7 linked regions of the Homo sapiens genome follow. The protein of the gene in region 1 interacts with the protein of each later gene in a pairwise test. Each region holds a gene or a part of one and is shown in the gene's direction. Other genes may lie near its edges.

What was found.
Region 2: the proteins of MGAT5B (region 1) and SLC25A48 interact in a two-hybrid assay, tested with the Homo sapiens proteins (one large-scale study listed by BioGRID).
Region 3: the proteins of MGAT5B (region 1) and PLEKHG7 interact in a two-hybrid assay, tested with the Homo sapiens proteins (one large-scale study listed by BioGRID).
Region 4: the proteins of MGAT5B (region 1) and GLYCTK interact in a two-hybrid assay, tested with the Homo sapiens proteins (one large-scale study listed by BioGRID).
Region 5: the proteins of MGAT5B (region 1) and IVD interact in a two-hybrid assay, tested with the Homo sapiens proteins (one large-scale study listed by BioGRID).
Region 6: the proteins of MGAT5B (region 1) and PTH1R interact in a two-hybrid assay, tested with the Homo sapiens proteins (one large-scale study listed by BioGRID).
Region 7: the proteins of MGAT5B (region 1) and RSKR interact in a two-hybrid assay, tested with the Homo sapiens proteins (one large-scale study listed by BioGRID).

What each region holds. Positions count from the first base shown.
Region 1 is NC_000017.11:76,898,999-76,903,129, forward strand, and holds part of MGAT5B (alpha-1,6-mannosylglycoprotein 6-beta-N-acetylglucosaminyltransferase B), read left to right. Parts: intron 1-3,556; coding exon 3,557-3,672; intron 3,673-4,131. UniProt on the Homo sapiens protein: Glycosyltransferase that acts on alpha-linked mannose of N-glycans and O-mannosyl glycans.
Region 2 is NC_000005.10:135,868,799-135,872,929, forward strand, and holds part of SLC25A48 (solute carrier family 25 member 48), read left to right. Parts: intron 1-2,662; coding exon 2,663-2,920; intron 2,921-4,131.
Region 3 is NC_000012.12:92,709,314-92,713,444, forward strand, and holds part of PLEKHG7 (pleckstrin homology domain-containing family G member 7), read left to right. Parts: intron 1-4,131.
Region 4 is NC_000003.12:52,286,518-52,291,142, forward strand, and holds the start of GLYCTK (glycerate kinase), read left to right. Parts: upstream 1-1,310; 5' UTR 1,311-1,359; exon of another isoform or gene 1,360-3,786; 5' UTR 3,787-3,825; coding exon 3,826-4,202; intron 4,203-4,442; coding exon 4,443-4,594; exon of another isoform or gene 4,595-4,625.
Region 5 is NC_000015.10:40,408,419-40,412,549, forward strand, and holds part of IVD (isovaleryl-CoA dehydrogenase, mitochondrial isoform 1 precursor), read left to right. Parts: intron 1-2,209; coding exon 2,210-2,379; intron 2,380-2,841; coding exon 2,842-2,935; intron 2,936-3,136; coding exon 3,137-3,273; intron 3,274-4,131.
Region 6 is NC_000003.12:46,901,721-46,904,930, forward strand, and holds the end of PTH1R (parathyroid hormone/parathyroid hormone-related peptide receptor precursor), read left to right. Parts: intron 1-45; coding exon 46-140; intron 141-805; coding exon 806-947; intron 948-1,028; coding exon 1,029-1,070; intron 1,071-1,549; coding exon 1,550-1,936; 3' UTR 1,937-2,079; downstream 2,080-3,210.
Region 7 is NC_000017.11:28,610,934-28,615,810, reverse strand, and holds the start of RSKR (ribosomal protein S6 kinase-related protein), read left to right. Parts: upstream 1-1,625; 5' UTR 1,626-1,649; coding exon 1,650-1,724; intron 1,725-2,122; coding exon 2,123-2,371; intron 2,372-2,465; coding exon 2,466-2,549; intron 2,550-2,664; coding exon 2,665-2,733; intron 2,734-3,123; coding exon 3,124-3,193; intron 3,194-3,444; coding exon 3,445-3,549; intron 3,550-3,726; coding exon 3,727-3,767; intron 3,768-4,015; coding exon 4,016-4,043; intron 4,044-4,154; coding exon 4,155-4,244; intron 4,245-4,329; coding exon 4,330-4,418; intron 4,419-4,557; coding exon 4,558-4,668; intron 4,669-4,877. Other genes in the region: BLTP2 (bridge-like lipid transfer protein family member 2 isoform 1 precursor), read left to right, coding at 13-147, 565-747.

The sequences.
Region 1 (4,131 bases):
TGGCCACTCACAACCACACCCACCGTGGGTCAGGGGGTTCAGAAAGTGACCTGGCTCTTGCAAGACGGATGGAGAGGAGCCTCGCTCCAGGGAGAGGTGCCTCCAGGAAGGGCTGAAACGGGTTGAGGTCCGTTCCAAAGTCTCTAGTTGACCTGGCAGGACCCCTGGCTTGGCTTGTCTTGACATAGGTTGTTTGTGCCCTGGGGTCTCTGGTTAGAAGGTAGGACAGGCGCCCAGTTTTTCTCCATTTTGCGTGCCTCCTGTCATGATGGGAGCCTTAGAGCCCGGCTCGTCTCCAGCTCTGAGCCTGCAGCAGTGGAGGTTTCCCTGCCTCTGCACTCTGTCCTTGAAATATTCATTCCAGGCTGGGTATGGTGGCTCACACCTGTAATCCCAGCACTTTCAGAGACTGAGGCGGGAGGATCACTTGAGCCCAGGAGTTGGAGACCAGCCTGGGCAATATATTTTCTACAGAAAATTAAAAAAAAATTAGCCGGACGTGGTGGCTCATGCCTATTGTCCCAGCTACTTGGGAAACTGAAGTGGGATGATGGCTTGAGCCCGGGAGGTTGAGACTGCAGTGAGCCATGATTGCGCCACTGCACTCCAGCCTCTGTCCAGGGTGGCAGAGTGAGAGCCCTTCTCTCTCTCCCTCTCTCTCTCTGTGTATATAAAAAAATATTCATTCCTGTCAAAGGAGTGTCCATCTTGCCCCTGTAGGTCAGCATGGAAAGCAGCTCCACGGGCTTCATCTGGACTGATGTCAGAGCCTGGCAGACATCAAATCGGCATGTTTCTTCTTGGAGGGAACCCAGGCATTCTCGGTGGGAGCACATCACTGCCAAAAGGGAGAACACTGGTTCTTGAAACAATCTTAGCTGTAAGAAACCTCCTAGACGGGCAATAATGAGAAAAGGTTGATGTGCCCTGGTCTAACCCAAGTCCCTGTGGCTGCTGCTTCAACCACATCAATATCAGTGCTGATCACGAATGCAAACAGTGCTGATGTCACACAGGTGCCGCTGGCCACGCACTTTACAGCTCTCTTCATTCAGTCCTCACCATGGTAGCTGCCCTTATGTCTTAAAAGATGAGACTGGTGAGCACAGAGAGGCTCGGTGACCTGCCCAGGGTCACATAGCTCATAGGGGTCTGAGCTTCCTCTCATCTCCTTGTATCATACTGGTAATGAACCTTGATGAGTTTTGGATAGATGAAAAATACTCCTACTTCCTTCTTCCTGAGGACTTTTTGAGCAAATGAAGCAGGTAGCTTTTACGTCTCTTCTCTTTCTTTGTAATCTCACAGAAGGCTGTCGTGCATTCAACTTTGTGCTCCAAAAAGCCATGTCCAAGTCCTAGCCCCAGGACCTGTGACTATGACCTCATTTGGATATAAGCTCTTTGCAGATGTAATCAAATTAAGAGGAGGTGCTACTGGATTTGGATGGGCCCTGGTTCCATGGCTGGTGTTCTTATAAAGAGAGGAAAGTGGACACAGACACACACAGGGGAGAAGGCCGTGTGAAGGCGGAGGCAGAGGTCGGGGTGGAGCAGCCACGGGCTGAGGAACACTGAGGGCTGCTGCTACCTCTGGAAGCTGGGAGGGAGGCCTGGGGGAGGCTCCCCTAGAGTCTAAAGGCGCCGGCCCTGCTGCCACCTCGCTGTCTGATTTCCAGCCTCCAGAGCTGCCAGAGGAGAAATGGGTGTGGTTTTAAGCCACCTGGTTTGTGGAAATTATTGCAGTCACCCCAGGAAACTAACACAAAAATGGTGGCATTTTTTATTTTAAGAGTTTTATGTTTGTTTGTTTTTGTCAAAGTTTGCCTTGGGCACTGAACTAGAGTGAGAGGACAGACTGGATTGTGTGTGCATGTGTGCGTGTGTGTGCATGTGTGTGCATGTGTGTGTGTGCGTGTGTACATGTGTGCGTGCGTGTTTGTGTGTGAGTGTGTGCGTGTGCACGCCTGTGTGCATGTGTGTGTGCATGTGTGTACATGGGGGGCTTGTTCCCCATTCCTGTCATCTGCCTTTTGTCCCCTCCACTTCGGTGTCTGCTTTGCTCCCACCTGTCACCCTGACTAGTCCCCCGATGTGTATGGGGCCACTGCCCTTTCTTTCCTTAGGAAAGGTGGAGGTGGGAGAGTGTGATGGCTGTAGAGGGCGGGTGGCCATTGAGGGTTCCTGCTATGCCTTCTCTAGTGGACAGCTCACTAGGCTCAGAAGAGGAGGAGAGGTGGGGTTTGCAGACCCGAACGGAGCCCAGGTTGGAAAAATCCTTCATCGAATTCCCATTATGTGCAGCCATAAAGACCAGTACCTTGTATAGGGATAAACGGAGCTTAAACTGGGCCTGCAAAGCCACGGGGTGAGGTGAGAATCAAAGGAAACCGAATTAATGTGTTAAAAAAAAAAAAAGGCAAGCAGCTTCCTGGAGAAAGACCCCCAGGGCTATCTTTGTGTGAGAAGATCTGCCAGCTGAGGGGAATCCATCTCAATAGAAGTTTGCAATGAGATAAATACTGCATATGACGGCTAATAAATGTCCCTGAGAGCTGAGTAGTAATCAACACAGGAAATAAATCCTCCAAAAATAAAAGCAACACTGGTATCGATGGTGAGGTGGAGGGCTGTGGTGGTGGCAGTCACCTCCTTTAAGATCCTGGGAAGGATTTGTTCTCAGGAAGCCAGTGATAATTTACCGGAGTTTTAATACCTGGCAAGTTCCCAGGCTTCTGCGGGTAGAATTTATTTTGGCACAATATGGCCTCTTGGGAGGAAATAGAGACAGACTCGGAGAGGCCCGGCTGTGCCTAGGAAAAGGCCTCTGTCACCTGTGTGACCCCTGGACAGAACCTAGCCAGGCTCTTGAATGGAATTCCTCTGCCTGTTTCAGCCCCATGCACTGCCCTTCAGCACACATGCAGTAATGCACGGACATGCCTGACACGTGCAGATAGGGTCACATGTGCAGATATGGGCACACGTGCCATTGTGGGCACACATGCAGATGTGGGCACATGTACAGTTGTGGCCACACATGCAAATATGATTACATGTGCAGTTATGGGTATGTGTGCAGTTGTGGGCGCACATGCAGTTGTGGGCACGTGTGCATATGTGGGGACATGTGCAGATGTGGGCACCTGTACAGTTGTGGGCACACGTGCAGTTGTGGCCACATGAAGACATGTTCTCTGACTGCTCAGGGAAGGTGGACATGAGGCCTGGGGCCGAGGGGTGGGGGATGTCCACTAAAGGGCTCTCTGCAGATATGATCACACATGCAGTTGTGGGCACAACATGCAGTTGTGACCAACATGTGCAGATATGGGCTTTCCCGTATGTCTGTAATGTGTGTACTGGATGGGGTGGGCTGCCAGCTCCATCTTCTCACCCGATTCACTCCCCACCATTTGGTCTGCTTGGGGTCAGGGTTTGGGAGCCTGGGGCATTGCAGAGCCTGCCGCCTTTGCCTGTGGGCCTTACTGGCAGGACCCTCATGGGAAGGTCACCCCGGCCGGTTCTGTGGCTCACCTCTGGCTTTTCCCACTTAGGATGCCCCCTGGGGCCGGCCTCATGGAGCGGATCCAGGCTATTGCCCAGAACGTCTCCGACATCGCTGTGAAGGTGGACCAGATCCTGCGCCACAGTCTGCTCCTGCACAGCAAGGGTGGGTGCCAGGGGGCGGGGGTACCCTCTACCCCTAGGGGGCCAATGAACTGGGTGCTGGGTGGGCCCTGGGAGGGTGGGACACTTGGGGTGTGGCCGACTTCTCCTGACAGCAGCTCTGCTGGCTCTTCGGGGCCCCAGTTTAGGCTTTCAGCAGGACAACTGGGGGTTCACTCCCTCGACCCGGCAGGAGGGCGCTGAGGACAGAGGAGGTCCCTGGAGTCTCAGCTTCTGGGGTCCACAGTTCCAGGAGTGAGGCCACCTGGGGAAGGGTCCCTCGGCGGCCCCTCCAGTCCCTGTGATGTGGGGAGCAGCGAGCTGGGGGCTGCAAACCTCATTTCTGCCTCCTCAGAAAACGCTGGGGATGCTTTCGGGTGGGTGCATGAGGTCTGCCCATCCAGGCAGCTGCTGAGTGGCTGTTCGCACCAGCTCCTCACTGCATCTGAACCCCCTGAGGAGG
Region 2 (4,131 bases), on another chromosome or scaffold:
ATCTGCACCTCCAAGCAGACACAATGTTACCAGAATCCCCTCTTTCAATCAATAACTCCTGAAAGCCACATCATACCCATAGCTGATTCATGAAAACCTTGACTCCTGGTCAGGTCACTCTTACCTGGAAATGAATGGGGCTTAGGCAAAGTTTAGACACTGGGACAATTATATCGATTCAGTTGAATTGAACACACACGAGTGAGAAGGGAGGGAAGTGAAGAGAGTGGGAGAGAGAACCCACAAACAATAAGCAAATGAGCTTATTTGCTTATTGTTAGCAATAGATAAATCTGGGTAAATTGTATGTATGGGCATTCTTTATACTATTTTGCTTTTTATACTTCTTTTGCAAATTTAGAATTATTTCCAAATAAAAAGTTTTTTCAAAAAAAAATATTGTGAATGAAGGAGCTAGAAAGAATTCCAAGAGCTTCACAGTATAAACTTGGGTCAGTTTGGAGCTGTGTCAGTATCCTGGTGATGGGAGTCACCATGATAATTATACTGCACTAACAGCCATAAATGGGTAATTCCAAAGCAATAAAAGCTAGATTGGTTATGTGGCAAACCTGGGAGAATGAGAGAGAATTTCCTTATTGCTTACTCCGCAGGGAAAAGGAAAACAGTACAGGATTTTTGTTGACAAGGCCAGTTGGAGGTTTGGTGGGTGTTTTCCCATCTGTACTTTCAAACAAGCAGAATGTTATCAAGATCCTCTCCCTCAGTCAGTAACTCCTGAAAGCCACTATTTACCCATAGTTGCTTCATGAAAACCTTGACTCCTGGGTCAAGTCAGTTTTGCCTGGAGATGAAAGCAGTTCAGGCAAAATTTATACATTGGGACAATGACATCTATTCTGTCTAACGGCAGAATTTCTCCAGATGAACCAGGCAGTAGCACCATGGGTCTGGAAGAGGAAGGGGTGCCTAGTGATCTCTCAGTGGGCTTTCAAAGGCCATCATGTCTGATCTTGCTCAGAGGGGTCTTGTGCCCCCAAAGGTGGCTACTACCCCGGCTCACCTCCTATGGGATCCACTGTGGAAGAAGTTGGCTCCATCTCCTGTCCACACTGAAGTTGGCCTAATGGATATGGCAGGGGTTTACTCCCTTCCCCACTGGAAGATGGAAAATACAGCATGGGTTTGTTCAAGCATACTTCCCAGGCACGCAGAAACCACCCCCTCAACCTCACCTGCTTCTGGGATGAGTTAAAGTACAGATTACACTTTATTCTCCAATCTCTAGACTGTGGAGTCATGAAGCCGAATGCTTCTAACCTTTCCTCTGATAAAGATGGACTGTTTGGGGGACTTGGACATTGACCTATATGATGAAAGCTGTCTGCCTGTTTACCAGCATGTGTAAAATCAGATTGGAACACTGTACAGAGAATTAAACTCAGGTGGCAAAATAGGCTTGTGGTCGCAGACACACTTTATTCTATTTCTTTCCTGGTCATGTCACATTATGTTATTTCCTGGAGAAGGGAAAGTCAAGAACAAGAGCCTACTTTATCTGCACTGGGTCTGGAAGTTCTGTCTGGTCATGAGTCAAAGCCTCATAGTAGAGAAGGATCCATAGCAGAGAAGGGTCCGTAGCAGAGAAGACAAGCATCAGAGTGGGAGATGGGTAGCAAATGAGAGAGAGGCAGAGTCTCAGCTGGCTATGTGCACCCCTAGAAGAAGCTGGAGACAAACAACCCCTGAGCTGCCAGCATAGACTACTGAGGTTAGACAAGAAGATAGCAGCCCTGGGTCCCAGGACTTTGAGGGGCCAAGAGCCCCAGTGCTGCCCTACAACTGTTTAGGGCACAGCCTGGCCAGGGCTGGAGTGAGTCACTGAGAATATACCCAGCTCTCCAACCTGTGGGTCCTGCCACCAATTCATGTCAGCAACCTTGGTCTCAGTTGATAACGTTTTAAGCCCCTACAATGTTCAAATCACCATGCTGAACACTGTACATGTATTACCTTATTTGCACTCATGACAAGCTCCCCCTCTTTTAACATAAGGAAATGGGCTGAAAATGCTGCCTTGCCAAGGTAAATTTCGAATTATTTCCAAATAATTTTAATAAAATTATTTATTTTATTTTTATAAAATTATAAATATTAAATTATAGATTTTAAATTTTATGTATAATTTATAAATTATTTTCAATAAGCGGTAGAGCTAGGATTTGCAGCCAGGACAGTCTGGCTCCAAATCTCATATACATTTTGCTCCGCCACACTGTGCATAAATAAATGTGTACACAGACACACACACACACACACACACACACACACACACACACACACACACACACAGCATGTTGGATTTTCTAGCTTCAAAGAAGAGCTTAGTGTGGCTTGTCATAATTGATTCTAGACATTCTGAAGTCACATTTGCTTCGAAAGAAGTAGTGGTATTGACCTAAAGTAACTGGTGTTCTATCACGTGGCTGAGATCGTCCCCAGTCTGGCTGTGTATATTGGCAGGGGCTCTTGTTGGGACCTCAGTATCCTGGTTTGAGCTGCCAAGAAGGTCAGATTTGGTAAAAGCTGATGGGCTACATGAGAGGGAACTGTCAAAGGGCTGGGCTGGCTCCAGTGTCACGGAATGTCCAGTCTCTTACACCCTGGGTCACTTGCCACCTTCTCTCCCCTGTCTTTGCAGCCAACCTCGGTTTGAAGTCCAGGGCAGTGGCTCCTGCGGAGCAGCCAGCATACCAGGGGCCAGTGCACTGCATTACAACCATTGTGAGGAATGAGGGCCTGGCGGGGCTATACCGGGGGGCCAGTGCCATGCTGCTGAGGGATGTCCCAGGCTATTGCCTCTACTTCATCCCCTACGTGTTCCTGAGTGAGTGGATCACACCTGAGGCCTGCACAGGCCCCAGCCCCTGTGCCGTGTGGCTGGCGGGCGGCATGGCAGGTAAGGGCAGCAGCAGCTGGAGCCGCACCCCTGTGCAGGCCACAGCAGTGGGACAGCTGGGGAACTGCCATGCCCTTCTCAGCCCAGGGGGAGGGCAGGACACATTTAGGTACTCACCCAACAATTCTTTGTTAGGTACCTACTCTGTCCCCGGCCCTCTCCCACCTCAGTCTCATCCCTTCCCTATGCAGCTATGAGAATGGCAGTTCCCATTTGACTTTCAGGCAACAGATATATTTTGAACACATACTCTGTGTCAGGCATTACTAAGCTTTGGAAAGGAAATCCATTATCATGGTTCAGTTTATTAAATGCAATCTTTGTAATGTAAGGATGCCATTAGTTCTACAAGGTAGGAATCGGTTTCCCCATTTCACAGATGAGAAAACTCAGGTCCAGAAATGTTAAGTAGCCAATCCCAGGTCATACAGCTGGAGCTGACAGTATAGCAGGACTCTGCAGTCAGAAAGATTTAAGTTCAAATCCACACTTCATCATTTTGTGACCATGGACTTGTTGCTTAACCTCCCTGCTCAGAATCCTGCACCACATCCTTCTTTCATTTAAGGTAAAAGTTGATATCTTTGCAATGGTTTTCCAGGCCCTCAGTGATCTAGCTCCCTGTTCCCCACCCACCTCACTTCTACTCCTCTCCCCTTCCTCACTTTCTCCAGTCACACTGGTCTCTGCTGCAACTTGACCATGCCTGGCCCTTCCCTGACCACAGGGCCTTTGTACCTGCTACTCACCACCTCCTGAATTTAACAACGTGGAGACCACTGGGGATTTTGGCAAGGGCCATTTGATGGAGAGAAGGGTGTAAAAACCTGATGAAGTGGGATAAAGAAAGAATGGGATGAAGGATATTGGTGCACCCAAGTATACACAACTCTTCTGAGGGTTCTGCTATGCTGTAATGAGGAACAGAGAAACAGAGCCATAGCCAGAAGGGCCTTTGGAAGCCAAGAGAGGATACTTTTTAAGAAGGCTGACATCATGACATGTTTGATGTGATGGGAAAGATCTAACAGAAAGAAGAAAATCATGAATCATCCTCCTCCTCCTGCTCCTCCTCCCTCTCTTTCTCCTCCTCATCATCACAGTTTGCCATGCTGTCAGCTCATAGCAGACATATAACGAAGCTCATGTCTTAGCCACCTAACTACAGTTTCACGTTCTGGCCCCCAGGTGCCTGTGCTCATGCCCAGCTC
Region 3 (4,131 bases), on another chromosome or scaffold:
ATCTTCAAGAATGACCTCCAAGCTTCTGGCTTGTTCAACTGGGTAACCAAGGTGTCCATTCACTGACCTAGATAAACTTGGGTAAAGAAATTAAATATGAGTGGTTAGAGTGTAGGTCTTGTGTTCAGGTTTGGACATGTTGAGTTTGAGGAACTATGAAACATCTAAGTGGAGATTTTGAGTAAATAATTGGTTAGAGAAGGCACCAGGGGTGGATGTACTATATGTATATTTGTGAGTCTTAAATCAAGGAATGTTTCCTAGAGCAGGTAAAGTCTGGGTCCAGCTCTGATTATTAGATGGAGCCGGCAGACATAAAGGCAGATCAATGGGATGCATGAAGCCATTTGCAAAAAAATGATGTGAAGGTAATTTCCATTGCCATATGAAATCTGTGAGGAAATAACAAAAATAGTCTTGGTAAATTTTAAAAGAACAGCTAGGTCAGGCTGGGCACAATGGCTCATGCCTATAATCCCAGCACTGTGGAAGGGCCAGGCAGGCGGATCACTTGAGGTCAGGAGTTTGAGATCAGCCTGGCCAACATAGTGAAACCTCATCTCTACTAAAAATATTTTTTCTTTAAATAAGCTGGGTGTGGTGGTGGGCACCTATAACTCCCTTCTTAGCCTGTTGACTTAAAGGTAGGAGGAGCCCAAAGTGTCCAGGTGGCAATTTTAACTTCAGTTTAATGGAAACTTTCTTGCGTCTCCTGGTGGCAGTGTTCCTCCCTCTGGAACTAAGACCTCTAGGCCAGCAGAACGTAATGTCACAGGAACAGGAGGCAAAAATTTGGCTAGTGGATCACTAGGGGTGATGATGAGTAGTGCCACTTTGACTTCCACCCCTTGATTCCTGAACCTGTGAATCCTGGCTATGGGAGAAACAGTACCATATATTGGATGCTGATTCAGAGCATTACATGGCCATCCAGAAAACTTTGTCCCAGCCCTGCAAAGTATTGTCACCTAGTTGGCACTACGATTGTGACTTCAAAAGGCCATTCCACCATTCTGTCAATCTAGCTGCTTCAGGATAATGGGGAACATGGTAAGACCAGTGAATTCCATGAGCATGAACCCACTGTCGCACTGCTTTGTCCATAAAGTGAGTGCCTTGGTCAGAGGCAATGCTGTGTGGAATACCATGATGGTGGATAAGGCATTCCATGAGCCCACAGATGGTAGTTTTGCCAGAAGCACTGCATACAGGATAGGCAAACCCATATTCGGAGTAAGTATCTATCCCAGTGAGGACAAACCTCTGCCCTTTTCATGATGGAAGAAGTTCAGTATAATCAACCTGCCACCAGGTAGCTGTCTGATCACCCCAAGGAATGGTGCCATATCGAGGGCTCAGTGTTGATCTATGCTGCTGGCAAACTGGGCACTCAGAAGTGGCTGTAGCCAGGTCAGCCTTGGTGAGTGGAAGTCCACTTTACTGAGCTTATGAGTAACCTCCATCCCTACCACCATGGCTACTTTGTTCATGGGCCCATCGGGCAATGACAGGGGCAGCTGGGGAAAGAGGCTGAGTGGTGTCCACAGAACGGGTCATCCTATCCACTTGATTATTAAAATCCTCCTCTGCTGAGGTCACCCATTCATGAGCACCTACGTGGGGTACAAATATCTTCACAGTTTTTGACCACTCAGAGAGGTCTATCCACATACCCCTTCCCCAAATTTCTTTGTCACCAATTTTCCAATCATACTTCTTCCAAGCCCCTGACCATCCAGCCAATCCATTGGCTGCAGCCCATAAATCAGTATATAATCGCACATCTGGCCATTTCTCCCTCCATGCAAAGTACACAACCAGGTGTACTCCTCGAAGTTCTGCCCACTGGGAAGATTTCCTTTCACCGTTATCCTTCAGGGATGTCCCAGAAAAGGCTTGTAGTGCTACAGCTGTCCACTTTTGGGTGGTGCCTGCATATTGTGCAGAATAATCTGTGAATCAGACCCTAGTCTTCTCTTCCTCTGTCAGTTGGTCATAGGGAACTCCCCATGAGGCCATTGGTGCAGACTGGGGGAGAGAAGGCAGGGTGGCAGGAGTGGAGACCATGAGCATTTGAGCCACTTCCTCATATAACCTACTTGTGCCTTCAGGACCCGCTTGAGCCCAATCACATATATACCACTTCCATTTGATGATGAAATGCTGCTATGCATGACCCACTTTATGGCTAGATGGGTCAGAAAGCACCCAGTTCATGATAGGCAGTTCAGGTCGCATGGTGACTTGATGACCCATAGTCAAATGTTCAGTTTCCACCAAAGCCCAGTAACAGGCCAAGAGCTGTCTCTCAAAAGGAGAGTAGTTATCTGCAGAAGATGGCAGGGTCTTGCTCCAAAATCCTAGAGGTCTCTGCTGTGATTCACCTATAGGGGACTGCCAAAGGCTCCAAACAGCATCTCTGTCTGCCACTGACACCTTAAGCACCATTGGATCTGCTGGGTCATATGGCCCAAGTGGCAGAGCAGCTTGCACAGCAGCCTGGACCTGTTGCAGAGCCTTCTGTTCTGGACCCCACTCAAAACTGGCCACCTTTCAGGTCACTCGATAAATGGGCCAGAGTAACACACCCAAATGAGGAATGTGTTGCCTCCAAAATCCAAATAGGCCTACTAGGCATTGTACCTCTTTCTTGGTTTGAGGAGGGGCCAAATGTAGCAACTTATCTTTCACTTTAGAAGGAATATCTTGAAAGGTCCCACACCACTGGACCCCTAGAAATTTTACTGAGGTGGAAGTTTTCTGAATTTTAATCAAATTTATGTCCCATCCTCTGGCATGCAAATGTGTCACCAATAAGTCCAATGTATTTGCTACTTCTTGCTCACTGGATCCAATCAGCATAATGTCATCAGTGTAATGGACCAGTGTGATATCTTGCGGAGGCGAAAAGCGATCAAGGTCTCTCCGAATAAGATTATGACACAAAGCTAGAGAGTTGATATACCCCTGAGGCAGGACAGTAATGGTATATTGCTGGCCTTGCTAGCTGAAGGCAAATTGCTTCTGGTGGGCCTTATGGACAAGAATGGAGAAAAAGGCATTCGCCAAGTCACTGGCTGCATACCGGTACCAGGAGATGTGTTCATTGGCTCAAGCAATGAAACCACATCTGGTACAGCAGCTGCAATTGGAGTCACCACTTGGTTAAGCTTACAATAATTCACTGTCATTCTCCAAGATCCATTTGTCTTCTGCACAGGCCAAATGGGAGAGTTGAACAGGGATGTGGTGGGAATCACCACCCCTGCGTCTTTCGAGTCCTTGATGGTAGCATTAATTTCCACAATCCCTCCAGGGATGCGATTTTTTTTTATTTACTATTTTTCTAGCTAGAGGTAGCTCTAAATGGCTTCCATTTTGCCTTTCCCTCCGTAATAGCCCTCACCCTACCAGTCAGGAAGCCAATGTGGGGGTTCTGCCAGCTGCTAAGTATGTCTATGCCAATTATATACTCTGGTCCTGGAAAAATGACCACAAGATGAGTCTGGGGACCCACTGGACTCACTGTAAGTCAGACCTGAGCTAAAACTCCATTAATTACCTGACCTCCATAAGCCCCTACTTTAACTGGAGGACCACAATGATGTTTTGGGTTCCCTGGAATCAACCTCAGCTCAAAGCCAGTGTCCAGTAGTCCCCAAAATGTCTGATCATTTCCCTTTCCCCAGTACACAGTTACCTTGGTAAAAGGCCAGAGGTCTCCATAGGGAAGGATGGGAAAAAGATTCACGGCATAGTGAATTGAGATCGCACCACTGCACTCCAGCCTGGACGGCAGAGCAAGGCTGCATATCAAAAAAAGATTCACTACATAAATTGTCAGTAATGTAGTGGGGTCCTTCCTCAAGGGGACCTGGCCTTCCCTTTATTCAAGGGGTTCTGGGTTTGTAAACTGGCTCAAGTCTGGAAATTGATTGAGGGGCCGTGATTCTGTTTTTACAATTCAAATTAGTCTTGTCCATTCAACCTAGAAGTTTTCTGCTTATGAAAATTAGGTAGGAATGTAGTAGGCTTCCTATCAATTTTAATTCTAGGAACACTGTAATTAATTAGCCAGTGCCAGCACTCTACAGGAGTCAGTCTATTCTGATTGCCGCTTTGCCTCTTCCG
Region 4 (4,625 bases), on another chromosome or scaffold:
GACTCCACCTCAAAACCAAGAGAAAGAAATGTGTTTTTGTTTGTTGGTTTTTTTTTGAGACAGGGGCCCAGGTTGGAGTGCAGTGGCGTGATCAAGGTTCACTGCAGCCTCTACCTCCCAGGCTCAGGTGATCCTCCCATCTCAGCCTCCTGAGTAGCTGGGACTACAGGAGCATGCCACCACACCTGGCTCTTTTTTTTTTGGTAGAGATAAGTTTCGCCATGTTCCCAGGCTGGTCTCGCATTCCTAGGCTCAAGCGATCCGCCCACCTTGGCCTCCCCAATGTTGGGATTACAGGCGTGAAACACTGCGCCCTGCCAAGAAACATGTTTCAATAAAATTGTTAGGAAATCAAGTGTGTGATTTGTGATGCAACTCTCTCCTCTATCTCCCTAAGAAAACATCAGTAAAAACAGTGAACTGTTTTGTATTTTTGGAGTCTGATCAGGACTCATCTTATGAATGTGGGAAGGCATCCAGCCAACACAGGGTAGGCCCCGGATGAGAGTAGGGACAGCGAGGTAGGCCCAGAGTCATTAGCGTTTACATGCCGCTTATGTGCTTGAGGATCGCAGAATGGAACTCTTGCTAAGCCAGAGCTGTATTTGGTGGCCCATGGTGGGAGAGGGAAGAACAATAATAAGTTGTGGAATAAAAGCCATGGAGAGGAGCGGGAATTACTTAATCTGGCTCCAGAAGGGGTGAGTTGTGGGGAAGTAGTGATTCTCAGTTCGTTTGCTCAGCCCAGTCAGTGCCTGACACTCAGGGTGCATCTGCTGACTGACCGTACAGGATAAAGGAAGGGAGAGGCCGGGTGCGGCGGCTGAAGTCTGTAATCCCATCACTTTCGGAGGCTGAGGTGGGTGGATCGCTTGAGGTTAGGCGTTCGAGACCAGCCTGGGCAACATGGCGAAAGCCCGTCTCTACTAAAAAATACAAAAATTAGCCCGGAGTGGTGGCACATGCCTGTAATCCCAGCTACTCGGGAGGCTGAGGCATGAGAATCGCTTGAATCCGGGAGGCGGAGGTTGCATTGGGCCGAAACCGCGACTCTGCACTCCAGTCTGGGCGACAGAATGAGACCCCGTCTCAAAAAAAAAATCGGCAATCGGTGAGGCGGGGATTATTACCCTCAATGTAGAGATTTAAAAAATGAGGACTGAAGGTGACTCCTTCCAGGTCTGTCAGTGGCCAGCAAAGAGCCAATATGCTAAACTCTCCCCTCCCGGACACCGGCTTCAGCCAGAGCTCGCACCCGCCTGCGCCGCTCCACCCACCCACACTTCCGGCTTCCGCTCCGCCCACCCCCTAGTACTTCCGTTCTCCAGCGCTGGGCACCGCGGCCGGAGCTGTGGGCTGGTAAGTCTGCGCCGCCAGGGCTCGCATGGCCTTCAGAAGCGGTCCCTGGGCTGGGCGATGACGGGTCCTGGTGGCAGCAGGCCCTTCTTTCTCGCATCACCGGGCATTACGCGGCAGCCATTTCCCTCGCTAAGGCCCTACCTTAGGATGACGTCACTTCCGGCCCCCTACTGTCTAGGGAAAGCCGGAAATGGTACCAGCCTTCTTTGATGGCGGGGAGGAGTCAAGACCGGTAGTCTTCCTATTTCCGTTGTTTTGCTCTGGAGCCTCCCGGAGTTTCGGAGAGACCGTGTCTTGGATAGAATTGGAGGACTTAGCAAATAAAAATGCAAAGCGTCCAGTTACATTTTTTTTGAGTTAGAATCTCACTCTGTCACCCAGGCTGGAGTGCAGTGGCGCGATCTCGGCTCACTGCAACCTCCGCCTCCCCTGTTCAAATGATTCTCATGCCTCAGTCTCCCGAGTAGCTGGGATTACGGGCGCCCACCACACCCGGCTAATTTTTGTATTTTTAGAAGAGACGGGGTTTCACCACGTTGGTCAGGCTGGTCTCGAACTCCTGACCTCAGGTGATGCGCCCGCCTCAGCCTTCCAAAGTGCTGGGATTACAGGCGTGAGCCACTGCGCCGGGCCACGTCCAGTTAAATTTGAGTTAAGATAAACGACGAATAATTGTTAAGTCCTAAACATTGTATGCACATACTTATACTTTAAAAATTACTTGTTTATTTGAAATTCAAATTTAACCGGAAGTCCTGTATTTTCTCTGGCAGCCTTAGCATTGAGCGTCCCCCTGTCCTGTGCTCATACCCAGTGGCAAGGCTGGGATCTTCTAGGCTCTTGTCCATCTGGGAAATAGATACAAATTTCATCCAGGCTATAAAGACCGGCTGTCTTAGTTGCTAAGATGCTTTTAGCTCCAAGTCCAATGGGCAAGCTCCAGGGGTCCCCCTGGCCAAAACTGGACCCATTTTCGGAATCCCCATGACGATGCCCTCTGTGTTCCCTTTCACAACAGAAGTCAGGCATGGCTGTCTTTTCTTACCGGAGAGCTGAGAACTAGGCAAGCAAAATGGTCAAAGTCTAGAAGTAACCACCATATTTGGGTGTGGGGTAAACCGGTGTTTGAGATCTGTGTTGCAGTGGACAGTATCAGAGAGCCTGAGGTTGTTAAGGGAAGAGCGTAGTGTTAATCTCACCCCATGTCTCATTTTGCGGATGAGGCCCAGTGAGAGAAATGGAGGTGTCCCAGCCACTCAGAAAGCCTATAGTAGAGCTGGAACCTCAATTCCCAGCCTCCTTACCCTGCTCAGTCCATACTTGCTGATGAAGTCAGCTTGCAACATTTATGGTAGGCATTTATTAAAGTAGATGCAATAGTACATATGTAGTACAGATGAGCTGTTTGGGTCTTTGTTGTTCCTATACCCCTCTACAGCTTCCTGACCTTCGCCCCAAGGCTTCTTTAGCTTTTACTCTGCCCAGTGGGGAAAATGGCTATGGGCTCAGTTATGGGAGCCTGGCCTTTGCCTACTTCAGCCCTTGGGCTCTCACCACTGTGGGTGGTGTGACCTAGGACTTGTTTTTGTTATCTTGGAACCAGAAGGCGTGTTCTTGGCAGGGTTGGGTCTGGCCAACTGTGTGGGTAGAAGGGCATCCTTTTCTGTCCTGCAATTGGGCTTCATGGCACATGGCCTCACATGGTGCCTGGGGACTTTTCTAAGGTTCCACCATGAGCCAGACTTTGCCCTCACTCCTGATTTGAACCTAAACCTCTTGCTGAACTGGTCCTGCATACTGAGATTCCTCAGATTGCTTGCCCTGAGGATGTGTTCTGGGTTTGACCTGATAAACCTGCAGCCTCCTATAGACCCTGACTTCCCAGGCTCCTAATCCCAGTCTCATGAGATAATGAAATAGAGAAGACTGGAGGTCAATGGGCTCAGGGTCAGTTGGTGGGACAATCAACAGCTTCCTGGCAGCAGAGGTGGTAAAGAGGCAAGGAAGGAGTGCCAGAAAGGGGCGTTGCCCCAGGGTAACAGCGCAGAAGTGCAGGGGGTGGAAAAGGGGTGGGATGGGAGCCCACTGGTAGAAATTACTCCCTCTGTCAATGATTAACTCCCAGCCAAAGGGGTGACCTGGGAGGAGGGCCCAGCTAATAGGAACTTTGGACTTGAGGCAGAGTATCCAGAGGGCCGGCATGTGGTCTGCAGAAGAGGAGGACGTGGCTGGGTGGCAGGGCTGGTCTCCAAGGACGAGTAAGATCCTGCAGCTGCAGGCTTCAGGAAGTCTCCTGGGGCTATCAGATGGCTCCTTCTTGTAGCAGCAGCTGTGGGGTCCACTGGCCCTGAGCCCTCAGAGGGGCGGCCGTGGGGGACCTCCTGTCTTTTGCCTTGCAAGGGCCTCAGTTGTGCTTTTTCCCTCTAGGCAGCCATGGGTGCCAGGCAGTGCTGAGAGCAGTGGGGCATGGCTGCAGCCCTGCAGGTCCTGCCCCGCTTGGCCCGAGCCCCCTTGCATCCACTCCTCTGGCGGGGCTCAGTGGCCCGTCTGGCCAGCAGCATGGCCTTGGCAGAGCAGGCCAGGCAGCTGTTTGAGAGTGCTGTAGGTGCAGTGCTGCCGGGCCCCATGCTGCACCGGGCACTATCCTTGGACCCTGGTGGCAGACAGCTGAAGGTGCGGGACCGGAACTTTCAGCTGAGGCAAAACCTCTACCTGGTGGGCTTTGGCAAGGCTGTGCTGGGTATGGCAGCTGCAGCTGAGGAACTACTGGGCCAGCATCTTGTGCAGGGCGTGATCAGCGTTCCCAAGGGGATCCGTGCTGCCATGGAGCGTGCCGGCAAGCAGTAAGGAGCCATGGGGGCCTGCCTCCCTCTATCTATCTGGAGGGAAACCTGGGCCCAGACACAGGCTGAATCGGGCCTCCCCTCCCCACCCGCTTCCCATTTCTCCTGGATCTGGCCTGGCCCCAGGATGCATGTCAGTGGGCATCTTCGTTCATGCCCCCATCACCTGTAAAGTTGAGAGATCAGGTGGGAGGAGAGGAGTCCACCCCATCTCTTGCGTGCTGACCTTTCCCTCCCCAGGGAGATGCTGCTGAAGCCACATAGCCGTGTCCAGGTATTCGAGGGTGCGGAGGACAACCTCCCGGACCGCGATGCGCTGCGGGCTGCACTGGCCATCCAGCAACTGGCTGAGGGACTCACAGCTGATGACCTGCTGCTCGTGCTGATCTCAGGTGTGGTACCACATTGGCCCAAGACTGTTGG
Region 5 (4,131 bases), on another chromosome or scaffold:
GGGACTGCCTGTGTCCTCTTCTGCTTAAACCTTGGAGCTCATTTGGGAGCAGATAGCGGGGGGAGTAGGGTAGGGGCTGGGCAGGGGAGAGAGATGTCTATCTGGGCTTCCAGGTGAGGTGGCCAGATGATGTGTTTAATAGGCTGTCCGGAGGGAGAAGGCAGGGAGCTAGCAGGCTCTGGTTTGGATGATATTAACGTCTGAAAGAGGCCCAGACTGGCTTGCAGTGCCCGGTAAAGAGATGAGCCTAGGCCAGGCGTGGTTGCTCACACCTGTAATCCCAGCACTTTGGGAGGCCGAGGCAGGTGGATCACCTGCGGTCGTGAGTTCGAGACCAGCCTGACCAACATGGAGAAACTCTGTCTCTACTAAAAATACAAAATTAGCTGGTCATGGTGGTACATCCCTGTAATCCCAGCTACTCGGGAGGCTGAGGCAGGAGAATTGCTTGAACCTGGGAGGCGGAGGTTGCAGTGAGCTGAGATTGTGCCACTGCACTCCAGCCTGGGCAACGGAGCGAAACTCCGTTTCAAAAAAAAAAGCCCAGCCTGCTTGGGCCTGTATTCACTCTGGGCATGAGAGTATGAGTGGAACCCAATATACTTCTCCTTACATCCTAGAAAGTTATATCACCTTTCATAAAATGAAACCACTTGAAGATTAATTGAAACCATCTTAATGTAAAAGCATTAGGGGAAAGGCTGCTGGGTACTCCTAAGCAAGACTCTCCTACTGTGTTTTGGGGGTTTATGTACCCCACTCCCTGCAGACAATATGCTTCTGAATCAGATTGTATTTTACGGAAGAAAGAGGCAGTTAGAAATCAGATGAAAATGGCCAGGTGTGGTAGTGGGCTCCTATAATCCGAGTGACTCGGGAGGCCAAGGCAGGAGGATCGCTTGAGCCCAGGAGTTCAAGGCTGCAATGAGCCATGGTTACACCATTGCACCCCAGCCTGGATAAGAGAGTGAGAGCCCGCCTCTTGAAAAAAAAAAAGAAAAGAAATCAGATGAAAACTCTTTCAAGGGAACCTGAAAAAGAAAGCTGGTTACAAGTTCTGGTTTCTGCATGATGTCATGGTGGCTGTTTCTAATGTCACCTGCCTTCAGGCTTTCCTTCCTGCAGTTGTAGGGGCAGGTCAAGGTTTCCTTAGAGCCTAGAACGAGCCTGACTTATTGGTCAGAGTGAACATGTGTATAGGACCTTGCTAGGCTTGACCCAATCAGCAGGGCTGGGGGTGGTATCAGGTGTCTCAGCCACTTGGAGTTTGGATCTGCTGCCAAGGAAAAACCGTATATTTTATGAGGAGTTCTGAAATTCTCTGCCAGCATCTCATCTGCCCTCTGCTGTACAGCTCACCTCAAGATTTTCCCTGAGGCTGTGGCTCTCCTGTCCTGTCACCAGTCCTGCTTCTTTCTTTTTTTTTTTTTTTTTTTGAGACAGAATCTCACTCTGTCGCCCAGGCTGGAGTGCAGTGGCGCGATCTCGGCTCTCTGCAAGCTCCACCTGCCAGGTTCACACCATTCTCCTGCTTCAGCCTCCCGAGTAGCTGGGACTACAGGCGCCCGCCACCATGCCCGGCTAATTTTTTGTATTTTTAGTAGAGACGGGGTTTCACCGTGTTAGCCAGGATGGTCTTGATCTCCTGACCTCGTGATCTGCCCACCTCAGCCTCCCAAAGTGCTGGGATTACAGGCGTGAGCCCCATGCCTGGCCTCCAGTCCTGCTTCTTTGGGTTCAGCCCTATGCTATAAAATCTCACCTTCCTCAGGCCTTTTGCAGACACATCAGATCCTCTGGCTTTGTATCTGTTCTTGGTGCTTTGGACACCACCTCCACCCCAATGCCTTTGTTTTTCTCCAGGCCCTCTTTCTTCATTTATTCATCTGCCTCTGCATTTCTGTAACTTTCTGAGTAGTGGGTGCTCAGGTTGTTCACGTATCTTCATCAAGAAGTCTGTCTGGGATAAAGCAGAAGTTGCAATGATTGCCTTCTGAATCACCCCTCAGCTGAGGAGCACCAGCAGGCAAAACCAGTCCACTGAGCTTGTAAGCAGGTCTGTGGCATCAGCTTATTCTTGTTGCTAGAGAGAATTTGGAGTAGGTGCTACAAGGTGCTTCCCTTCTGCCGTCAAATGTAAGATTCTTAATGAATGTCCCGATTTAATCTGGGCTGCGTTTTCCACTCCCTTGTACCACACCACTCACAGTTCAGTATGGCGGCTCCGGCCTGGGCTACCTGGAGCATGTGCTGGTGATGGAGGAGATATCCCGAGCTTCCGGAGCAGTGGGGCTCAGTTACGGTGCCCACTCCAACCTCTGCATCAACCAGCTTGTACGCAATGGGAATGAGGCCCAGAAAGAGAAGTATCTCCCGAAGGTGAGGAAATGGAAATGTAATACACGCTAATCTCACAGTGCAACCACCAACTAAAAGATACCCTCTCCCCTTGGGGGCCAGTCAGACCTGCTTTCTGTAGCATGCTGCCATGAACCAAATGTGGTTAGGAAGGGGCCATGGATTGCTTTAAAATACTTGAGCCAAAAATAATAAAAATAGGACCAGAACTCTTGCATTGAACAACAGACAGACAACATTTGAAGAGAACTCTAAGAAATGGAAGAGTAGGACTAGCTTCCTTTGCAAAGGGAATGGAAAAAGGAGAGGCATTTTCAGCCTTGTAGCCATTGGGCTTAGAAGAGACTTCTAGGACTTTACCGACACCCTGGTCTGAGAGCGAAGTTTGAAGGGGTTTAATGTGGACAGGAAGAGGCAGTACCAGTGAGCTGCTCTAGGGTACTCTGAGGTTGTAACAAGGCCTGTTGGGGGTTTTCCTTGCAGCTGATCAGTGGTGAGTACATCGGAGCCCTGGCCATGAGTGAGCCCAATGCAGGCTCTGATGTTGTCTCTATGAAGCTCAAAGCGGAAAAGAAAGGTGAGGCCACTCTCAACTTGGGAGCCAAAATGGGCAGAGGTACAGACATTATCAGGATAATGGAGCAACAATTGTGGGTGGCCCCTGCTGGGTTTCCAGAACTTTCTCAAAGGTGGACAGCTTCTTGCTCAGCAGAAGGTCTATGGCCTGGCTGAGACAGGCCAAGATGGCTTGAGCAAATAGCCAACATCCTGCCCTTAGGAAATCACTACATCCTGAATGGCAACAAGTTCTGGATCACTAATGGCCCTGATGCTGACGTCCTGATTGTCTATGCCAAGACAGATCTGGCTGCTGTGCCAGCTTCTCGGGGCATCACAGCCTTCATTGTGGAGAAGGTGAGTATAGGTGGGTGCAGGGCCAGGAGGCTTCTGCCTCCTGACAGTGGTACCAGAGATAGCCCGTTCACTGATCTCAAATGGAATCAGTGTTGTGTGCTCTGCAAGGCCCCCAGAGGTGGGGGTGAGGCAGAGAGCAGACTGCAAGGAGGGTGACCAAAAGTCCAGGAAGTCCAGGGCAGATGGGTCACTTCTGAAGACGGTGGAGCCGTCCTCAGCGCCAGGCCACACAAAGAGGTCTAGAAAGGGGAGGACTAAAAGGAGGTCAGGACATGACGGTCAGGGTACCATTGGTGGATCTGATGAATGTGGCCATGGGAGACTGAGGTGTGGGTGGGATGCAAGTGGAGACTGCCCCTGCAACAGCCTTGACAACAGAAGCAAGAAGGAAGCAGAGCAGGAGTTCCAATGAAAAGTTAGGAGTTTGGGTTTGTTTTTAGAAATGAGAGAACTGAGCAGATTTTTTGGTCAGAAGGAAAAAAAAGGGAAGAAAAAAGAAAATAGAGGGAGAAATTGAAAAGTGTGGGAATGAGTGGGCAGAACACAATGGTGAGCTGGGGCAGAAGAGAGAAGGATGGGTTACAGGTGATGGTGCAGGAACCACTTGCCTAACGATCATGAGGAGGAAGCCAGGGGCCCTGTGAAGGCTGGGGCCACGAGTGGGGGAGTTGGCAAGAGTTTCATGAGCGAGTATTGTAAAGGTTTGCGGTACCCTCCATAGAGAGGGGGAAAGTAGCTGTCTAGGGTTGGAGCAGTAGGGACCTGGCTGAGATTGGAAATCTCAAGGTTGCGTGATGCCACCCTCATTACAGGCTGAAGGCAGCATGTGCCAGCACTTTGCTGGTCACTTGCCAAAAC
Region 6 (3,210 bases), on another chromosome or scaffold:
CCCACTAGGGTGCAGCCTCCAGACGCAGCCCCCTCACTCCCACAGCTCAACTTCATCCTCTTCATCAATATCGTCCGGGTGCTCGCCACCAAGCTGCGGGAGACCAACGCCGGCCGGTGTGACACACGGCAGCAGTACCGGTGAGCCCACCATGCCTGCCATGCCCTGGCTCCTCAGGGGTCCCTGAGTCCTGGTACCATGTACCCCAGGAAAGACAGTGGCCCCATGAATGATCCTGGGGCAAGGGAAAGGACCCAGCGTCTGACTCCCTGGCTGTCCTCACCCACCTGGCCTGCCCAGCAGTGATGGGAGGCCCTAGGGCACCCCAAAGCCAGCCTGCCCACTTGTACCAGGCCCTGCACTAGAGCTGGAGTCTGTGAGTGTGCAACGAACTTGAACCTCTCCTCAAAGAGTTGGTTGCAGGGGGTCTGAGGAACAGGTAGGCGGTGAGTGGCCCCGGGAAGGCTGCAGCTCAGCTGAAACCTGAGGAGCGGACTGTGGGATAGTGAGGTTCGACCGTGGAGGGGAGTGCTTGCCAGCTGAGGGCTCCACAGGTGCGAAGGGCCCAGGGACAGGGGGACTGTCATTTGAAGTCCGCTCCGGGACACCGCTGAGAACCAACGGGCCCTATTAGCACTTAGCCAGGACAGCAGCCATGCAGGTGAACTGGGTTGTCCTCCCATGGTGACTGGAGCCCTGGGCCCCTTTGAGCTTCCGGAGCCTGGGGCTCGCAGGGTGGGGGGTGGCACAATGCTTGTTGAAGGGGAAGTGGCTTGGCCCTGACCTACCTGCCCCGCTGGCCCAGGAAGCTGCTCAAATCCACGCTGGTGCTCATGCCCCTCTTTGGCGTCCACTACATTGTCTTCATGGCCACACCATACACCGAGGTCTCAGGGACGCTCTGGCAAGTCCAGATGCACTATGAGATGCTCTTCAACTCCTTCCAGGTGCGCAGTGCTGGCCCGGGCCTGGCTGAGGGTGGGAGGGGTTCCGGGGGCAGGCCTGATTCGAGACACCCCTCTTCACAGGGATTTTTTGTCGCAATCATATACTGTTTCTGCAATGGCGAGGTAAGCAGGAGACAGTGTTGGCATAGGGCAGGGTGGGGCAGATACCCCAGAGGCTTCCTCAAGGCTCATTTCTCCATTCTTCCACCCTGTTATTTCTTTGTTCCTCCAAGAACACCCCTGAGGACATTCTGAAAGCAGAGAAGTCTTTCCAGATGATGCAGGTTCAGGATGTGCTAGGATGTGGGGACTCTTCAGTCACTGGCATAGCCAAGTGTCTTCCCAGCCCCATGGTTCAATTATCTGTGACCCAGATTGGAGGACTCAGCCACCTTTGGGGCAATTTGAGCCTTGTAGATTCTGGGTGTGTCGGCTGCCTGTAGCCAAACACCCTGTTGTGAGGATGGGATTTCACTTGGCCTTGGAGTTTCCCAGGAGTCCCCTATTCCCATTTTCATTCCGTGCTGGGTGTCCAGGGGCCGGGATGGGGCATCGCTGGGGTTGGGAGACACACCTGACTGCCGCACCCTTACTGCCCCAAGGTACAAGCTGAGATCAAGAAATCTTGGAGCCGCTGGACACTGGCACTGGACTTCAAGCGAAAGGCACGCAGCGGGAGCAGCAGCTATAGCTACGGCCCCATGGTGTCCCACACAAGTGTGACCAATGTCGGCCCCCGTGTGGGACTCGGCCTGCCCCTCAGCCCCCGCCTACTGCCCACTGCCACCACCAACGGCCACCCTCAGCTGCCTGGCCATGCCAAGCCAGGGACCCCAGCCCTGGAGACCCTCGAGACCACACCACCTGCCATGGCTGCTCCCAAGGACGATGGGTTCCTCAACGGCTCCTGCTCAGGCCTGGACGAGGAGGCCTCTGGGCCTGAGCGGCCACCTGCCCTGCTACAGGAAGAGTGGGAGACAGTCATGTGACCAGGCGCTGGGGGCTGGACCTGCTGACATAGTGGATGGACAGATGGACCAAAAGATGGGTGGTTGAATGATTTCCCACTCAGGGCTGGGGCCAAGAGGAAAAACAGGGAAAAAAAGAAAAAAAAAAGAAAAAGGAAAAGGAAGCGGTGTGTGGCTTCCTGTGGCCCAAACTGGGGACTCACTCCGAGAGGGTGGGGCTGGGAGCCAGGGAAAGCTGTGGCGGGAGGGCCATGAGTCATGGAGGAATCCTCAGGTCTCACTTCAGAATGGGGAGGGATCTGGGGCCTGTGGTATCCAGCAGAAAGGGCCCAGAGTGGCTCAAGTCTGCAGGGGTCACACAGCAGCCAAGTGGACCCATGTGGAAATCCAGCCTCAGCCTCCGTTGCTGCCAGCTGTGGAGCTGCTCTCCACACTTGTACCTAGACCCCATGGGGGACCCAGGCTCCTCTGGGCCAACTCTTCTGACTGCTGCCCCCATCACTGCCACCCAGGGCTGCTGGCAGATCCCTCGGGTCCCTGGCCACACCCCCAAGCCTACGGCCCTGCCACAGAATGGACCTTTCCTGGCTGTCCAGTGGCCACTCAGGGAGCCCTCCACGCAGGAGCCTTAGCATCCACCCGTGACCTGACATGCCTCTGTGACTGAGGTTGCAGTAGGAGCACCAGGCCAGCAGGTGAAGGGTGGGCTGGGTCCCTGCTCTGGCTCAGGACTTGTGGGGAGCCAGGAGTCTGAGCCCAGAGGGCTGGCTGGGCAGGGGCCTGCAAGGTGGGACACATCCATTCACTATGCATCTGGGACAGTCACTAAGTGTCCTCACCTGACACCCACCTACCACCTTACTCACCCCCCCGGACCGTGCCCTCTCCCACCTTGGGCCATTCGTGGGCCCCAGAGTGGCACAGAGCCCCTCAGCCCGACACCCTGAGGACTGACCCTACAGCATGCCCACCCCGGGCTCTGGCCTGAACGAGCTTCTTGCTCTTGCTCCAGCCTAAAGACAGCCCCGCACGAGCCCTGCCCTGCCTTCCCATCTCCCGCTCAGCCCGTCTTACTCTTCTCCACGGACTCGGCATCCAGGAGTGCACCTCATCTCCAGCAGCCCACACACACCCCATAGGGCATAGGGGAGGGGTCAGGAGGCCCAAGACAAAAAACTCAGGTGGGCGTTAGGAGGTGTGGGTGCCTGCTGAGCAGCCCCACACCCAGCCCTGCCTGCCCTTCCAGATGACGGACAGGACCAAAGGCTGTCCAAGGGCCTGGTGCACCCGTGGAG
Region 7 (4,877 bases), about 48 Mb from region 1:
CTCCTCTTACAGGGTGAGAAGAACAGTGTGGACTGGGGTGACCTTAACCTGGTGCTGCCCTGTCTGGAGTACCACAACAACACATGGACATGGCTAGACTTTGCCATGGCTGTCAAAAGGGACAGCCGCAAAGCCCTGGTTGCCCAGGTATCCCGCCAGGGCTCATGGCTGTTTGGCTAATGGGGCTGGCAGGCAGATCCTCTTTTCAGGAGCCTTTCATTTTAGAATCCATGAATAAATATCCTTGGGAAGGGGCAGGTGCATGAAGTGAGTGGCTTCTATGCCTACCCTCTCCATGACCTCACTCAGATTATTAAATTCAGTGTTTACTGAGTGTTTCGTATAGCACCATTGATTTTAGGGAACTGAGAGCTAACACAACCTAAAGTTTAGAAGGGGTTATAATTAGACTGTAAGCTTCTTGAAAGCAGAGACCATTGTATGTGAATTGCCCCATTGTGCCTTGGATGTGTTTAATAAATCTTTATTGTCTTGGTTCATTTTGATTTATTCTGCCTGCCCACTAATATTTACATTTTCTTTTACTCCTCTCCAATCTGCCAGGTAATCAAAGAGAAGCTAAGGCTGAAGTCTGCAACAGGCTCTGAGGTCCGGGGAAAGCTAGAAACTAAATCGGACCTGAACATGCAACAGCAGGAAGAGGAGGAGAAAGCCCGGCTCCTCATTGGTTTAAGTGTGGGCGACAAGAACCCTGGCAAGAAGTCCATCTTTGGCAGGCGCAAATGATTTGGCGATTCGAGTGGCTGCAGTACAGGATCTGACTCTGGCTCAGGCTCCAGGGACTTGTGGGGTGGGAGGGGCTTCCCGTTATCCACGAGGATTTGTGGGTGTCAGAGCCCATAGGCATCACTCTTCAGCACCTGGTCTGTTCGCTGCAGGGCATGGTGGACAGTAATGCTGAGTTCTGTCTCACACTGATCAGGCTCAGGGCCAGAGAGGCAACAAGAGAGCAAGACCCAGGGAATGGGCCCAGGGCAGGACCCTATTCCCTTGGGGTCAAGTGAAAGGGTAGGGGGATAGTCCTGATCAAGTGTGATAAATTTTTATAGACATATATAAATATATATATATTATATATATATTTCTAAGTGTAACTGTCCTTCCTCTGTGCCAGGAAACGGGAGGGGGCTGATCCTCTGATCCTCACTCCACTGTCATGTTTGAAAGAGGTATTGGTGTTCTGGAGTGGGGGTCAACCCCTCCCCAGTCTCTGTGCTAAGTTCACTTGGGAGGATGGCAGTAGGAGCCAGGGCTGGCCATGGGTCCCCTACCCTTCCCCGTAGGATATACCCTGGAGAATGGCAAAATGATTTAAAGAGAAAAAAAAAGATATTTTAAATTTGATGCTCATTTTTGTGTGTGTGTGTTGAGTGCATGCATTCAATCTGTGTATTCCTCCCTCATCAACCCAGAACATCCTGCAGCTGCCACTCTGAGGGTGGCCCCTTCCTTCCTCTGCCCTGAAGCTGTATCACAGAAATTTCTAGTCCTAGTGTGACTCTGGCCCCATGCTGATGGGTTTCTGCAGACTGGAAGAGGCGGGGCTCGTGTCACGCAGCATCAGGGAGAGGAATTGCTTATATAACTGGGACAGCAGATTTAGCAGAGAGAGGAGGCAGAGGCTGGGAATGGGAGCAGTAAGCTGTCGGCAGGGGCAGCACACCCAGCAGGGGGAACACACCCGGGTGGCTGTCCCTCACAAGGTAGGCTGTGGGGCTCTGGCAGCCTACTGAGGGGAGGAGAGGGAGACATGGGCTTGAGTCCTGGGAAGTTCCTGGTTAGGAGCATGGAAGTGATTACCCAATGTGGGGGTGGGGCAGGGAGGCTGTACTATGAAAGCATCACAGCCCAATACTGAGGTGCAGGCTGTACTCTTAATGCGTCATGGTGAAAATGTCCAACAATTATTTTCCTAGAGGATTTGAATTGTGCCCAGGAAATCTGGGGCTTAGCACAAAGCAAGGGTAATGGGAATTTTGCCTCATGCTCAAAAATGTACCTCTAGGGGTTGAGACTTAAGGGGAGGGAGTGCCTAGTAAGATGGGTGGAACCTGCTATGCCTCAGGAGCAGAAAGTTTAGAGTGGCTCCCTTGGTTCTCAGCAGGGTGGCAACATCCGGGGTCCCTGGGCCCGAGGCTGGAAGAGCCTCTGGACAGGTTTGGGAACCATCAGGTCAGATCTGGAAGAACTCTGGGAACTACGGGGGCACCACTATCTGCACCAGGAATCCCTAAAGCCAGCCCCAGTACTGGTAGAGAAGCCTCTGCCAGAGTGGCCAGTGCCTCAGTTCATCAACCTCTTTCTACCAGAGTTTCCCATTAGGCCCATTAGGGGGCAGCAGCAGCTGAAGGTAAGTCAGTGGAATCCCTGAGTGGGGTCTCAGTCTTTGGGAGAAGTTAAAAATGACCAGTCTCAACTGGCCTGTTCTCCATTCCTCTGTACAGATTTTAGGCCTCGTGGCTAAAGGCTCCTTTGGAACTGTCCTCAAGGTGCTAGATTGCACCCAGAAAGCTGTATTTGCAGTGAAGGTAGGGGCGTAGATACCACATTAGTCTCTGTTTCCAATCTTGATTCCAGAGAGGTTGGGAGGAATAAACAATTCAATAGCACTATCTATGAGTCATCACTACTCTCCTTTTATAGGTGGTGCCCAAGGTAAAGGTCCTACAGAGGGATACCGTGAGGCAGTGCAAAGAGGAGGTTAGCATCCAGGTATGCACAGAGTCCTGGAAAGGATTGTGGGAAGAGCTAGGCCACAGGTAGGGAAAGTACCTTTCTTGCCCACCTTCTTTTCCTGGTTCTGCCTCATCCATCTGCTTCAGCCTAGTTTAACACTAAAGTAGATCCTGGGAAAAGTATCAGCTCTCAACACAGTTTTCCCATGTCCTACTAGGGAAATCTCTGAAGCATGTCCCAGTGTATTCCTTAGTATTTGCTGGTTCTAGGATTACCAGATAGTCAGTTCCAAATATTGAGTTCCTCTGAACTGAGAGGTGAGGCAGCAGTTCCCCCTCTGCACATCTGGGTAAAACCTGATTTCTCAGCTGCCTTTATTCTCAATGACCCTGTTCCTCCCTAACTTCCTGTTTTCTTTGTTCCTAGCGACAGATCAACCATCCCTTTGTACACAGCTTGGGGGACAGCTGGCAGGGAAAACGGCACCTTTTCATTAGTGAGTGACTGGACTCTCTCCTCATCCCCCAGGGTCTTTGTACCATGTTCCCCACCTGAGATTACCTCTTTGGCTTGTTCTGCCTTTGCTCTGTCCCCCTTCTCATGGCACCTCTCTGTCCCAAAGGGAGGGGAACAGCAGGTGGTATCAGTTTGGGCAGGAGGCCTACAATGCCTTGAGCCCAGGCATTGCAGCTCCCAAACATTGCCTAGACTTCTGGCAATGTATGTAGCTCCACACTGGCTTTGCAGTGTGTAGCTACTGCAGCACAGATCTGTACTCCCTTTGGTCGGCTGTTGGCTGCTTTCCTGAGGCTTCCATCCGTCTCTTTGCTGCCGAGTTGGTGCTGGTACTGTGTAAGTGAAACAGTGGTAAAGGAAATGGGGAGGGAAGATTTAAGTTCGGAAGAAGGAGAGTAAAAAATTAATATTAATAATGGAAGTTAAAGAATAGGATAGGGATGGGATGAGGGCTACTAGGGAAACTGGAAAGGACAGAAAAGCTGCAGCATACCCCATACTTGTTATCCACAGGTTATCTCCATGACTTGGGCATCATGCATCGAGATGTGAAGGTAGAGTTAAGTGCTTTTTTCCCTTTGTCTGAGAAAGAGTCTCAATAAGAAGTGCCAACAAGTCCAAGAAGTTAGGGAGCTGAGAACTGTAGACATTGGGGCCCCCATGGGTGCCAAGGATTTGGGGAAGGGCTCTCTGAGTATAGATTTGAGTGCTGAGTAGGGCATCACCTTCAGCTGGGGTGTATACATGATGAAAGAGAGTTGAAAGGAAGAGGAAGAATTACTTCTCACCTGTGATCTTTCAGATGGAGAATATTCTTCTAGATGAACGAGGTAAGTCTTTTTCCTTCCTTAGCCCCAGGATGAGAGGTACTTTGGTTTGGGAATAAATCATGGCTGATGATGGGTGGAACAGTGGTGCAGTTGCCTTACCTTCTTTCATAGGCCATCTGAAACTGACAGACTTTGGTCTGTCCCGCCACGTGCCCCAGGGAGCTCAAGCCTACACTATCTGTGGCACTCTTCAGTACATGGGTGAGAGAGGTTAAAGCTGATGGGTAAGCATTGGGCAGGAGGATAGCTAAAGGATGTCTGTGATGAGTATCTTTGAAATCTGTAGCCCCAGAGGTCCTAAGTGGAGGACCTTACAACCATGCTGCTGATTGGTGGTCCCTGGGTGTCTTGCTTTTCTCTCTGGCGACTGGAAAGGTGAGAGAATAGTAGTAGTTTTGGGCAGAGAAGAGCTTTGCCTTGTGGTGGGAAGAAGGAAGACCTTAGGAAATCTTGCCGTATTCCTACTAAGGAATGAACCCCTACCCCTACCTCCACTCCCTACCTCTTAACTCAGTTTCCAGTGGCTGCAGAGAGAGATCATGTGGCCATGTTGGCAAGTGTGACCCACAGTGACTCTGAGATCCCAGCTTCTCTTAACCAGGGCCTCTCACTCCTGCTCCATGAGGTAAGGATGAGCACTGCTTTCCTTCTTGGCTACGAAACCATTAATGCTCTCCTGCCTTCATTAAAGTGATTTTTCCCCATTCCTCTCATCAGTTTTTTTGAGGGGGCTCCAACTTAACTACCTAACTACTTGCCATCTAAGCTGTACTGAGTCACATTCCTAAGTTCCTGGTCCCCCAAATCTCCTCCCCATCTAGAACAGAGAGGTCC